Linked DNA regions of Homo sapiens. The protein of the gene in region 1 purifies or fractionates together with the protein of each later gene. This does not show direct contact. Each region holds a gene or a part of one and is shown on either strand. Other genes may lie near its edges.

Region 1 (5,364 bases):
CAGGGCCACTGCGAGGGGGGCCGGACTTCCTGCGGCTGGACCACACCTTCCACCTGGAGCTGGAGGCCGCCAGGCTCCTGCGCGCCCTGGTGCTTGCGTGGGACCCTGGCGTGAGAAGGCACCGGCCCTGTGCCCAGGGCACCGTGCTGCTGCCCACGGTCTTCCGAGGTAGGACATGCGGCTGCAGGGGAGGAGGGGCAGGGACCCCCAAACCCCACCGCCACCCCCCGCAGAGTGCCTAGGGGGCTGGGCTCCGGGCGGAAGGTGTGGCCTGGAGCAGCGAGGCCAGGGTACATGAAGCTTCAGAGCACACCCGGCTCAGGCCCCCTTGTGTCCTCAGGGTGCCAGGCCCAACAGCTGGCCGTGCGCCTGGAGCCTCAGGGGCTGCTGTATGCCAAGCTGACCCTGTCGGAGCAGCAGGAAGCCCCTGCCACAGCTGAGCCCCGCGTCTTTGGGCTGCCCCTGCCACTGCTGGTGGAGCGGGAGCGGCCCCCCGGCCAGGTGCCCCTCATCATCCAGAAGTGCGTTGGGCAGATCGAGCGCCGAGGGCTGCGGGTGAGCACCCACCCCACCCCAACCCTCTGGCCCCCAGACCTCAGACCACTCTTCAGGACACCCTATGTACAGATGCCAGACCCCTACCCCCAGGCCTGAGCCACTCCTAGCTCCAATCCCAACCTAGACAAGGGCAGAAGGCGCCCCCTTGACTGTAGCACCCTGGGCAGAACCCATGGGTCATCCATTGATTTAAAAACAGGATCCAAGCCCTCCTGGGGCTCAGAGTCTGATGGGGGAAAAGATACGACTCTAGTCATTCACAAATGTAAAACTATAACTGGGACTGGAGTTGGGGTGGGGTGTACCTAGGGTCTGGGAGAGCTTAAAACAAAACCTGGGGTAGTCATGGAAAGCCTCCTCAAAGAAGTGTCAGTTTCCTAAGTCAAAGGAGATGGCAGCCAAGACAAGTAGTCCAAGCAGAGGGTTTACAAGGCCAGGTTGTCAAGGTAGTTCCAACCTCCCAGCCCACAATGCCCATTGCTGCCTGGCCCAGAATTCCAGTGCTCACCCCACTGGGCCCTGATTAGTCTGTGGCCCCGGCAAGAAGACATTCACTCTCTCTTCCCACCCCCAGGTAGTGGGACTGTACCGTCTTTGTGGCTCAGCGGCAGTGAAGAAAGAGCTTCGGGATGCCTTTGAGCGGGACAGTGCAGCGGTCTGCCTATCTGAGGACCTGTACCCCGATATCAATGTCATCACTGGTCAGCATGGCCCCCTCTCCCCTGCCTGCTCACCCCCATTCAATGCCTCACTTCAAGGCCTTGGGGCTCCTCTGGGACCTCAGTCCTCCTATCTGACCTTGCTTTCACCCACCTCCTCTTCCCCCTTAGCTGTGCCCTCCTTAGCCTTAGAAGCCAGTGGTGCCCTGACCAGAGGGGACCCTGTGTTCACAGGCATCCTCAAGGATTATCTTCGAGAGTTGCCCACCCCACTCATCACCCAGCCCCTGTATAAGGTGGTACTGGAGGCCATGGCCCGGGACCCCCCAAACAGAGTTCCCCCCACCACTGAGGGCACCCGAGGGCTCCTCAGCTGCCTGCCAGATGTGGAAAGGGTGAGTTGGGCCTGGTGGGAGTGATGGGACTTGAGAGTGGGCTGATACCAATAGAATGTTTCACCCATGCCTGGGCCTGAGATGGGCATGAGCTGGCAGCATCATCATATCCCCAAGAAATAGGTGCTATTAGCATCCCACTTCATAGATTTGGAAACTGAGGCCCAAAGCAGGTGACAGTTGCCCAAGGTCACACAGCCAGGATGTGTCAAAAATGCAGGCTGAACGCTGATCTTTCAACCTACAAGGGAGGTTCCTGGCTGAGGGAACCTAGACAAGTCCCATCCCTCTCTGTGCTTCAATATCTTCATCTGTAAAATGAGATTCATGGCAGCTCTGCTTTTCCAATGCTTAGTTGCCTTTGGCTTCAGTCTTCCCTCCAACAAAATAGGCTCATAATACTAACATCTAATGATTAATAGTCTTAACCCGACCACATCCCAGCTATGAGACTGTGAACCTGCTTCCCTACTCTAGCCACCTTAGTCTCTTGCAGGTAGGTGCCACAGGGGCCTGACTTTGTCTGACTTACATCCTCTCAACCCTCTCCCAGGCCACGCTGACGCTTCTCCTGGACCACCTGCGCCTCGTCTCCTCCTTCCATGCCTACAACCGCATGACCCCACAGAACTTGGCCGTGTGCTTCGGGCCTGTGCTGCTGCCGGCACGCCAGGCGCCCACAAGGCCTCGTGCCCGCAGCTCCGGCCCAGGCCTTGCCAGTGCAGTGGACTTCAAGCACCACATCGAGGTGCTGCACTACCTGCTGCAGTCTTGGCCAGGTGAGTTCATGCCCAGGGCCTGCACCACCAATCTGAGCCAGGCTGCTACAGTGATGCCACCTTAAGGGACCAATCAGTGTCTTAGGCTTGAAGCTACGCCCCCTCATGGAGTAAACTGGTACCTGGTTGCCTCAGCAACCAGTTCAGATCCAACCAATCTGTCTGTTTTGTCTTTTTTTATTTTCATTTTTTTGTAAAGACAGGGTTTCTCTATATTGCCCAAGCTGGTCTCAAACGCATGATCTCAAGCCATCCTTCCGCCTCAGCCTCCCAAAGTACTGGGATTATAAACCAAATCACCTTGCCCCACAGAGCTGATTCATCTTTTTATTTTTATTTTTTATTTTTTTTGAGATGGAGTCTTGCTCTCTAGCCCAGGCTGGGGTGTGGTGGCATGATCTCAGCTCACTGCAACCTCTGCCTCCCAGGTTCAAGGGATTCTCCCACCTCAGCCTCCCGAGTAGCTGGGATTATAGGCACGCACCACCAGTCCTGGCTAATTTTTATATTTTAAGTAGAGCAGGGTTTCACTGTGTTGGCCAGGCTGGTCTTGAACTCCTGACCTCAAGTGATCCACCCATTTCAGGCCTCTCAAAGTGCTGGGATTACAGGCATGCACTACCAATCCTAGCTAATTTTTGTATTTTTAGTGGAGATGGGGCTTCACGGTGTTGGCCAGGCTGGTCTTGAACTCCTGACCTCAAGTGATCCGCCTGCCTCAGGCCTCCCAAAGTGCTGGGATTACAGGCATGATCCAGGCATGATCCACAGACCTGCCCCTACCCATCTTTGATGCAGTCAGAGGCCCTGCCTCTTGACATGCCAATCAGAGGCCTAGTTGCGTAAGCAACCAGTCCTAGCTCTGCCAGTGAAAACCTGAAAGGGTCGAAGGCCGCTTTCCACAGGCCAATCAGGAGCCTAGTTCCCTAAGCAGCCAATCAGAGGTCGGCTGTCGCCTCTTTCTATGACCTACCCTGTCTCCCTTCAGATCCCCGCCTGCCCCGACAATCTCCAGATGTCGCGCCTTACTTGCGACCCAAACGACAGCCACCTCTGCACCTGCCGCTGGCAGACCCCGAAGTGGTGACTCGGCCCCGCGGTCGAGGAGGCCCCGAAAGCCCCCCGAGCAACCGCTACGCCGGCGACTGGAGCGTTTGCGGGCGGGACTTCCTGCCCTGTGGGCGGGATTTCCTGTCCGGGCCAGACTACGACCACGTGACGGGCAGTGACAGCGAGGACGAGGACGAGGAGGTCGGCGAGCCGAGGGTCACCGGTGACTTCGAAGACGACTTCGATGCGCCCTTCAACCCGCACCTGAATCTCAAAGACTTCGACGCCCTCATCCTGGATCTGGAGAGAGAGCTCTCCAAGCAAATCAACGTGTGCCTCTGAGCCAGATGACGGGGTGGGACCCCGGTTAGTAAGGACCGGGCGCCCAGTGGCTAAGGCGGTGCCCTGGTGACCAAGGAGAGCCAGACCTGTTGCTCAGGCCGAGCTCCTGGTTGCCAGCGAGTTACCACGGGACCAGTCGCGTGTATGGCTGAGACTCATTCCCAGTTTCCAGGGCCCGGTATTTGGACACTAGTTGCCAAGTCTGGGGCCTGGGGATTTTAGGGACCAGCGGTTGTGACCATCTTTCCTGAGCACCAAGGGCTTCCCCTTTTGTTGCCAAAAAGGTAGTTCTCGCGCTTGCTAGGCTGGCCTCTCTTGCCTCCCCTTGGCCGGGGCAACACCAGTTACTGTGAGCATCACCCTGGTGTGGTGAGTCACCTCTAGTCGGCCCTCTTGCTGCTGCCAACCAAATCAGTATTAGCTTTGAGCACTGCACTGTTTCTCCCTCCCTTGGACGACACAAAGACTAGCATGAGGCACTGTTTGTGGGGGGCAGCCCCTATCCTGGGTTCCAGCATGGACACAGGGGTAGCCTGGGGCTTATAGAGAAACAGCTGGTTTCCCCTACCCTTTTCCGGGGAAGTCCCCACGATTGGCCTCTAGTCAGCAAATGGAGATAACAGAGTCTGGCCTTTCCAATCCCCATCTCCTTGCCCCCCCCTTGCCCCCCCCCCCGAAAAAAATTGAGCACTTAAACCCCTCCCTTTTGGAGGGGGCCCCCTGAAGCGTCAGGCTGGGGGCAGTCTGGTACGGAACATATTTATTGCCTCCATGCATGTGTGTGTGTGTCTGTGAGGACTGGTGTGCGTGGACACGTCTGAAGCAGGCGTGTGGGGCTCTTTCAGGGACCACAGAGGAGGGAGCAGTTTGCAGTGCCCAGCCACCCTGAAATCCCCAATAATGGTGCCTCAGTGGGCCCCAGAGTTCCAGTGGGAGAGTACGGTTCCCTCCTGTCTCCCTCTTCTTTTCCGCACCTCCATCTTTGTGGATAATAAATAAATATGCACAGGTTCTGAGACTGAGTACTTGGGCCTACATGGGCCAGAGGTGGTTTATTCAGTCTCCATAAGAGAGGGGACAAACGGCACAGTTGGGTCCGTGAAGAGGAGGGTCCAAGAGCTCACAAGAGAGCCTCTCTGAGATTTGACCCCTCCATCCCCTCCTCAGGGAGGTTGTGGAGTCACTGGGCCTCATGGGATAGGCCCAGGGCAAGCAATGATGAGACTCCAAACCAGCTGGACACAGTCCAGGGGCAGGAAGGCAGCCAAGCGTCCTGACCCACAAGGCCCTATACAGCAATGGAGCCATCGCGGAAGTCCGTCCTCCCAATGAGGATGTTGACCACAACCGGGTGGCCGTCTCGGCACTGCTGCTGGGCATCGTGCAGCACCTTGACCACCTGATCCTCGTTCTCCCGTGAGAGCAGCAAGCCCCGGGCCCCCAGACCCATGGCTGCCTTGTGATAATCTAAAAGAAGAGATTAAGTCGGATAGTGGCAAGGACTCAGCCCACCGCACATGCAGCCAGCCCAGGAGAGGAACACAAGCCCAGCTGGGACTGAAACAGCCTCCTGTCCTCCCA
Region 2 (7,290 bases), on another chromosome or scaffold:
AATCCCAAGTGGGTTTTGATTGAGTCCTGTTTTAGCTCCCTCTCTCTCTCCAGAGCTCATTGGGCTTTTTGTTGCTTAGTTAGATGAGCCATAGACAAGGAGTTTGAGACCTGGGTTTTAGCAACTGCTCTGCTAAAACTGGCTGATCTTGTGGAAGATAAACCTCATTGAGTCTTAGTTTGTGCTTTTTTTAAAGTGAGATATTTAGTTAGACTAGTGATTTTCAAACTCTTTTTCCTAGTAGCAAGACTCTTTGTACGAAGAAAATCTTATCTGGATGCCCAACCCAGACAAGAGAGGTTAAGAGTCATTCTGGTTGACTTTGAAGGTGGACTGTCTTTTCTCCCATTGTGGCCATAGTGAAAGTGACTCTGTCTAAAATTTAGTGTATTTTTTCCCCCCAAAGATGGATAATGTGTTAATGGGACGATGTGAGAAGGATAAGAGGTAAGGATGTGGGAGTGAGCAAGGTGACAGATCATAGGCTATGCTTTTTCATATAAAAAATGAAGATGGGTATTACAGAAGATATTACTAAATTGTTTCTCTGAAAAGTCTTATAACTTATGACATGAAACTACATTAAATTATATGTGTCAACTTCAAAACATTACAGTACCTGAAGTGGACACTGCTTTGGCTGTATGACCCCAGTAAGGTAGGGTCAGATGGGCATCTAGGGGACTGGCTTTTCCTGCTTATCTAAGTGATAGAAGTTTTCACTGTTAAAACTTCATTTTATTGCTCTTATTTTTGTCACAAGTCCTTATGAGCTTGGTTGGGTGAAGGGTCACCCAGAAAAGAACCAGCTTCCACTTTCTTTAATTATGCAAACTAGAGCTAGGTGACTGAGAACTTGCTTTTGGTCTGCAAGACATAGGGAGTTTTGCAAGCCCCAAGGGAGTCCAGAATTTCCTGAACATGTTGCAAGGTGGCTGGATGGCTTTCTTCTGAAGTCATGCAATATTGTCCTTCACTTTGGTTATGACTGCAGAGGTGCTGGGAAGCAAAATGAAAACTATCACCTTGAAGCAGGCTTTTCTTCATAGGCCCCAGAGGTGAGGCCAGCTCATTTAAAGGGAATGGCTTGTGCTGCTGCTTTCATCTAAAGGTATTTTGATCCAATTCCACCTCCCAGCTCCTTTATTGGTAATGTTTTCCAAAACACAGTATTTTTGCTGAGGGAAGGACAGGCAAAGGCCTGAACATTTAGAGAGTAGAAAACTGGCTGGGTGTGGACCTTTTACAAAAGTTCATATTTTGCTAGTTTAATTTGGAAAAGGACACATGAATTCTCACAGAAAATGAGCTTTATTGGGGAACAATACATTTCATGAAGGCATTTCTTTATCAGGAATCACACAGGCAGCCCCACGCAGTCACTGCCCCACACCTTATCCTTCAGCTTGTGCTGCACAGGAGAGGAGTGGCTGGGATTCCTGACTAGGGCTTTGATGAGAGTGCATGCACACTGGAGCATGCTTCTTGGCCTGGATGGCAAAGTCCCAGGAGCCAGTCCTAACTCAGACTCTGGCCTGCCTAGGTACATTTCAGATGAAAGTCACCCCTGCTCCTTGCCCCACCCTCAGTCCAACAAAAATGTGCTTCTAGAAATGCTTACTTTTCTTTTTCTACGAAGGGCTTATAATGTGAGGCTACTAAAGATTTTCAGATTTCAGAATAGTACCACTTACCTTGGGCTAGGTTAATTTTTTAGAGAATTGATCTTGTCCCCTAATGAGTAGGAAGATCAACTGGTTTTTGGACATGACTATAAGCAGAAGATGCTAAATAATACCTTAAAAAGACTCCACTGGCCAGGTGCGGTGGTTCACTCCTGTAAACATTTTTTAATTTTTGTGGGTACATAGTAGATGTATATATTTATGGGTTACATGAAATATTTTGGTACAGGCATGCAATGTGTAATAATCACATCAGGATAAATAGGGTTTCCATCATCTTAAGCACTTATCCTTTGTGTTACAAACAATCCAGTTATACTCTTCAGTTATTTTAAAATTTTATTTTTTGAGACAGTCTCACTCTATTGCCTAGGCTGGAGTGCAGTGCCACAATCATGGCTCACTGAAGCCTTGACCGCCTGGTCTCAGGTGATCTTCACCCTCCTGAGTAGCTGGGACTATAGGCGTGTGCCACCATGCCCGGCTAATTGTTTACTTTTTTGTAGAGATGGGGTCTCCCTATGTTGCCCAGGCTGGTCTCAAACTCCTGGGCTCAAGTCATCCTCCCACCTCAGTCTCCCAAAGTGCTGGGATTACAGGCGTGAGCCACCGTGCCCGGCCAGGGAGCTCTTTCAGATTGGCTCCTGTGTCTGTCTGACATGCTTCTATCCTTTTGTTTTTGAGCACTTGCTTAGTTTCTGGTACTACAAGATGCTCCAGGCTTATCTTGCATTTTTTTGGCTCTAGCCTTAGAACCTAGCTATTTTCTCAAGAAGCCTGGGTTCTTTTCTATTGGAAAATATTTAGAAACCAAAATCCAGCACAGTACTTTGAACTGAATTCTGCTTCAGTCCTCCCAAACTAACATAAACTTGGCAGAAGTGTATGGGAGGCAGATGCAGCACCCTCCCAAAGCAGCTGGCCCTGTGGTGACTTGGTGGCAGTTGTCCACTTGGATCCTTAGTTTCTATACTGAGCTACTGGCTCCTCACCTGAGGTCTCTAGACTTGTAGGGCATGTGAGATAACTGAAGAGATATCTCTGGGCACAGAGAGGGAAGAAGTGGAGATACAGCAGCTTCCCTCATTTTTTAATTTTTAATTTTTGAGACAGTGTCTTGCTCTGTCACCCAGGCTGGAGTGCAGTGGTGCAATCTTGGCTCCCTACAACCTCTGCCTCCTGGGCTCAAGTGATCCTCCCACCTCTGACTCCTGAGTAGCTGGGACTCCAGGCATACACCGCCATGCCTGGCTAATTTTTTTTATTTTTGGTGGAGACAGGGTTTTGCTATGTTGCCCAAGTTGGTCTCAAACTCCTGGACTCAAGCAATCAGCCCATCTTGGCTTCCCAAAGTGCTGGGATTACAGGTGTGAGCCCCTGTGCCTGGCTAGCTTCTTTTTCTCTTTACCCTAGGTCACTAGGTCAGAGAGAGAGAGGCCCTGTTATAATCTTTGACTTTTAATAGCTTTATTAAGGTATAATTTATACACATAAACTTTACCTGTTTTAAGTGCATAAATCAATTATTTTTAAAGTTTATAAAGTTGTGCAAAAATGGCTGGGTGTGGTGGCTCACGCCTGTAATCCCAGCGCTTTGGGAGGCCGAGGCAGGAGGATCACCTGAGGTCAGGAGTTCGAGACCAGCCTGACCAACCTGGAGAAAACCTGTCTCTACTAAAAATACAAAATTAGCCGGGCATGGTGGCACATGCCTGTAATCCCAGCTACTCAGGAAGCTGAGGCAGGAGAAATGCTTCAACCCAGGAGGCGGAGGTTGTGGTGAGCTGAGATCGCGCCATTGCACTCCAGCCTGGGCAACAAGAGTGAAACTCCATCTCACACACACACACACACACACACATAAAAGTTGTGCAAAAATTACAACTTAGTTTTGGAACATTTTTGTCACCCCCAAAAGATCCCTTGTGCCCATCTGCAGGCAATCCATGTTTTCACATCAGACCCATGCAACTGCTAATTTAGTATATGCCTTTTCTGGACTGTAAATGGAAACATACCATATGTGGGATATTGCATCAGACTTCTTTCACTAAGCATAATGTTTTGAGATGCATCCATATTGTAGCCTATATCACTACTCCATTGTATACATATATCATTTAAAGAAATCCACCAGTTAAAAAAAAAAAGAAAAAGAAATAATCTGGGTATGTTGGTGCCTGCCTGCAGTCCCAGTTACTGAGGAGGCTGAGGCAGGAGGATTGTTTGAGCCCAGGAGTTTGACTTCAGAGTATGCAACATAGTGAGGCCTCATCTCTTAAAAAAAAAAAAAAAATCCAGTAGTTGATGGTCATTTGGTTTCCACTTTTTGACTAATATGAATGATAATGCTATGAACATTTGCCTACGAGTCTTGATGTGAACACATTTCCACTTCTCTTCTCATGGAATAGCAGGATCATATGGTAAACTTATGTTTATCTTTTTAAGAAACTGCCAAACTGTTTTCCAAAGTGGCTGCACCATTTTACATTCCCACCAGCAATGCATTAGGGCTCCAGTTTCTCCACATCATCACCAACACATATCTTTGTCTGTCTTTTTTATTATAGTCATTTTAGTGGGTCCAAAATGGTATCTAATTTTGCTTTTAACTTGTATTTTCCTAATGACTAGTGATAGTACACATCTCTTCATATGCTAAGCAATTTGTATATCTTTGCTGAAATATCTATTCAAACATTTTGTCCATTTTTAAGTTGTCTGCCTTATTTTTGAGTTTTAAGAATTCTTTACATAGTCTAGATACAAGTCCTCTATCAGATACTTATTATGGTTTGAAAATATTTTCTCCCAGTCTGTGATTTTTCAATTAATTTTTTTTTTTTTTTTTTTTTTTGAGACAGGGTCTCACTCTGTCACCCAGGCTCTAGTGCGGTGGTGTGATCTTGGCTCACTGCAACCTCTGCCTCCCAGGGTCAAGAGATCCTCCCACCTCAGCCTTCTGAGTAGCCAGGACTACAGGAGCACGCCACCATGCCTGGTTAATTTTTGTATTTTTTGTGGAGATGGCATTTTGCTCTGTTGTCCAGTCTGGTCTCAAATTCCTGAGCTCAAGTGGTCCACCCTCCTTGGCTTCCGAAAGTGCAGGGATTTCAGATGTGAACCACCTCCCCGGGCCAATTAATTTTCTTAATAGTTTTTTGAAACAAAATTTTATATTTTAATGAAGTCCAATTTATTAATATTTTCTTTTATGAATTGTGCTATTAGTGTCTTAAGAATTCTTCCTAAACCAAGGTCATCTAGGTTTTCTCCCATGTTTTCTTCTACATGTTTTATAGTTTTAGCTCTTACATGTAGGTGTGTGATCAATTTTGAGTTTATTTTTGCATATGGTAGGAGGTAAGAATCTAAATTAATTTCTTCTGCATTTGATATCCAAATATCCTAGCACTATTTGTTGAAAAGACCATCTTTTCTCCATAATTTCATTGGGATTTTTGTCAAAACTTAATTGATCATAAATGTGAAGGTTTATTCCTGGACTCTGTTCCACTGATCTGTATGCCTATCTTTATATCAGTACCACACTGTCTTGATTAATGTAGCTTTGTAGTAAGTTCTGGATCAGAATTATTTCTTCATTTTCAGAATTATTTTGGCTATTCTGAATCCTTTATGTTTTCATACAGATTTTAAGATTGGCTTGTCAATTTTTCAAAAAAGCCTGCTGTGATTTTGATAGGGATTGCATTGTAGATTAATTTGGGGAGAACTGCTATCTTAACAACATTTGATCTTCCAATTCATGAACATGGATTGTGTCTACATTTCTTGATACCTTCTTTAATCTCTCTGAATTTTTCTTTTTCTTTTTTTGAGACAGGGTCTTGCTCTGTTGCCCAGGCTGGAGTGCACTGGCACAGTCACAGCTAACTGCAGCCTCAACCTCCCAAGCTCAGGCAATCCTCCCAATGTAGCCTCTCAAGTAGCTGGGACTACAGGTGTGCAGCACCATGCCTGGCTAGTTTTTTAAAATTTAATAATTATTTTTTTTATTATACTTTAAGTTCTGGGTTACATGTGCAGAACATGTAGTTTTGTTACATAGGTATACACATGCCATGGTGGTTTGCTGCACCCACCAACCTGTCACCTACATTAGGTATTTCTCCTAATGTTATCCCTCCCTTAGCCCCCCACCCCCCACAGGCCCTGGTGTGTGATGTTACCCTCCCTGTGTCCATGTGTTCTCATTGTTTAACTCCCACTTATGAGTGAGAACATGCGTTGTTTGGTTTTCTGATCTTGTGATAGTTTGCTGAGAATGATGGTTTCCGGCTTTATCCATGTCCCTGCAAAGGACATGAACTCATCCTTTTTTATGGCTGCATAGTATTCCATGGTATACATGTGCCACATTTTCTTAATCCAGTCTATCATTGACGGGCATTTGGGTTGGTTTCAAATCTTTGCTATTGTGAATAGTGCAGCAATAAACATACGTGTGCATGTGTCTTTATTGTAGAATGATTTATAATCTTTTGGGTATATGCCCAATAGTGGGATTGCTGGGTCAAATGGTATTTCCAGTTCTAGATCCTTGAGGAGTCGTCACACTGACTTCCACAATGGTCGGACTAATTTGCACTCCCACCAACAGTGTAAAAGCGTTCCAATTTTTCCACAACCTCTCCAGCATCTATTGTTTCCTGATTTTTAATGATCGCCATTCTAACTGGCATGAGATGGTATCTCACTGTGGTTTTGATTTTCATTTCTCTAATGACTAGTGATGATGAGCATTTTTTCATATGTCTGTTGGCTGCATAAATGTCTTCTTTTGAGAAGTATCTGTTCATATCCTTTGCCCATTTTTTGATGGGGTTGTTTGCTTTTTTCTTGTAAATTTGTTTAAGTTCTTTGTAGATTCTGGATATTAGCCCTTTGTCAGATGGATATATTGCAAAAATGTTCTCCCATTCTGTAGGTTGCCTGTTCACTCTGATGATAGTTTATTTTGCTGTGCAGAAGCTCTTTAATTAGAACCCATTTGTCAATTTTGGCTTTTGTTGCCATTGCTTTTGGTGTTTTAGACATGAAGTCTTTGCCCATGCCTATGTCCTGAATGGTATTGCCCAGGTTTTCTTCTAGGATTTTTATGGTCCTAGGTCTTACGTTTAAGTCTTTGTTCCATCTTGAGTTGATTTTTGTATAAGGTGTAAGGAAAGGGTCCAGTTACAGTTTTCTGCATATGGCTAGCCCGTTTTCCCAACACCATTTATTAAATAGGGAATCTTTTCCCCATTGCTTGTGTGTGTCAGGTTTGTCAAAGATCAGATGGTGGTAGACGTGTGGTGTTATTTCTGAGGCCTCCATTCTGTTCCATTCGTCTGCATATCTGTTTTTGTACCAGTGCCATGCTGTTTTGGTTACTGTAGGCTTGTAGTAAAGTTTGAAGTCAGGTAGTGTGATGCCTCCAGCTTTGTTCTTCTTGCCCAGGATTGTCTTGGCTAGGTGGGCTCTTTTTTGGTTCCATATGAATCTTAAAGTAGTTTTTTCCAATTCTGTGAAGAAAGTTAGTGGTAGCTTGATGGGGATAGCATTGAATCTATAAATCAGTTTGGGCAACAAGGCCATT

What was found.
Region 2: the proteins of SYDE1 (region 1) and RPAP2 purify together in Homo sapiens (affinity purification with mass spectrometry; 2 studies listed by BioGRID and IntAct, with this or other methods). This does not show direct contact.

The regions. Positions count from the first base shown.
Region 1 is NC_000019.10:15,110,181-15,115,544, forward strand, and holds the end of SYDE1 (rho GTPase-activating protein SYDE1), read left to right. Parts: coding exon 1-168; intron 169-340; coding exon 341-555; intron 556-1,132; coding exon 1,133-1,259; intron 1,260-1,451; coding exon 1,452-1,612; intron 1,613-2,165; coding exon 2,166-2,391; intron 2,392-3,379; coding exon 3,380-3,783; 3' UTR 3,784-4,794; downstream 4,795-5,364. Other genes in the region: HACL2 (2-hydroxyacyl-CoA lyase 2), read right to left, coding at 5,072-5,250. UniProt on the Homo sapiens protein: GTPase activator for the Rho-type GTPases. As a GCM1 downstream effector, it is involved in placental development and positively regulates trophoblast cells migration.
Region 2 is NC_000001.11:92,392,891-92,400,180, reverse strand, and holds part of RPAP2 (putative RNA polymerase II subunit B1 CTD phosphatase RPAP2), read right to left. Parts: 3' UTR 1-7,290.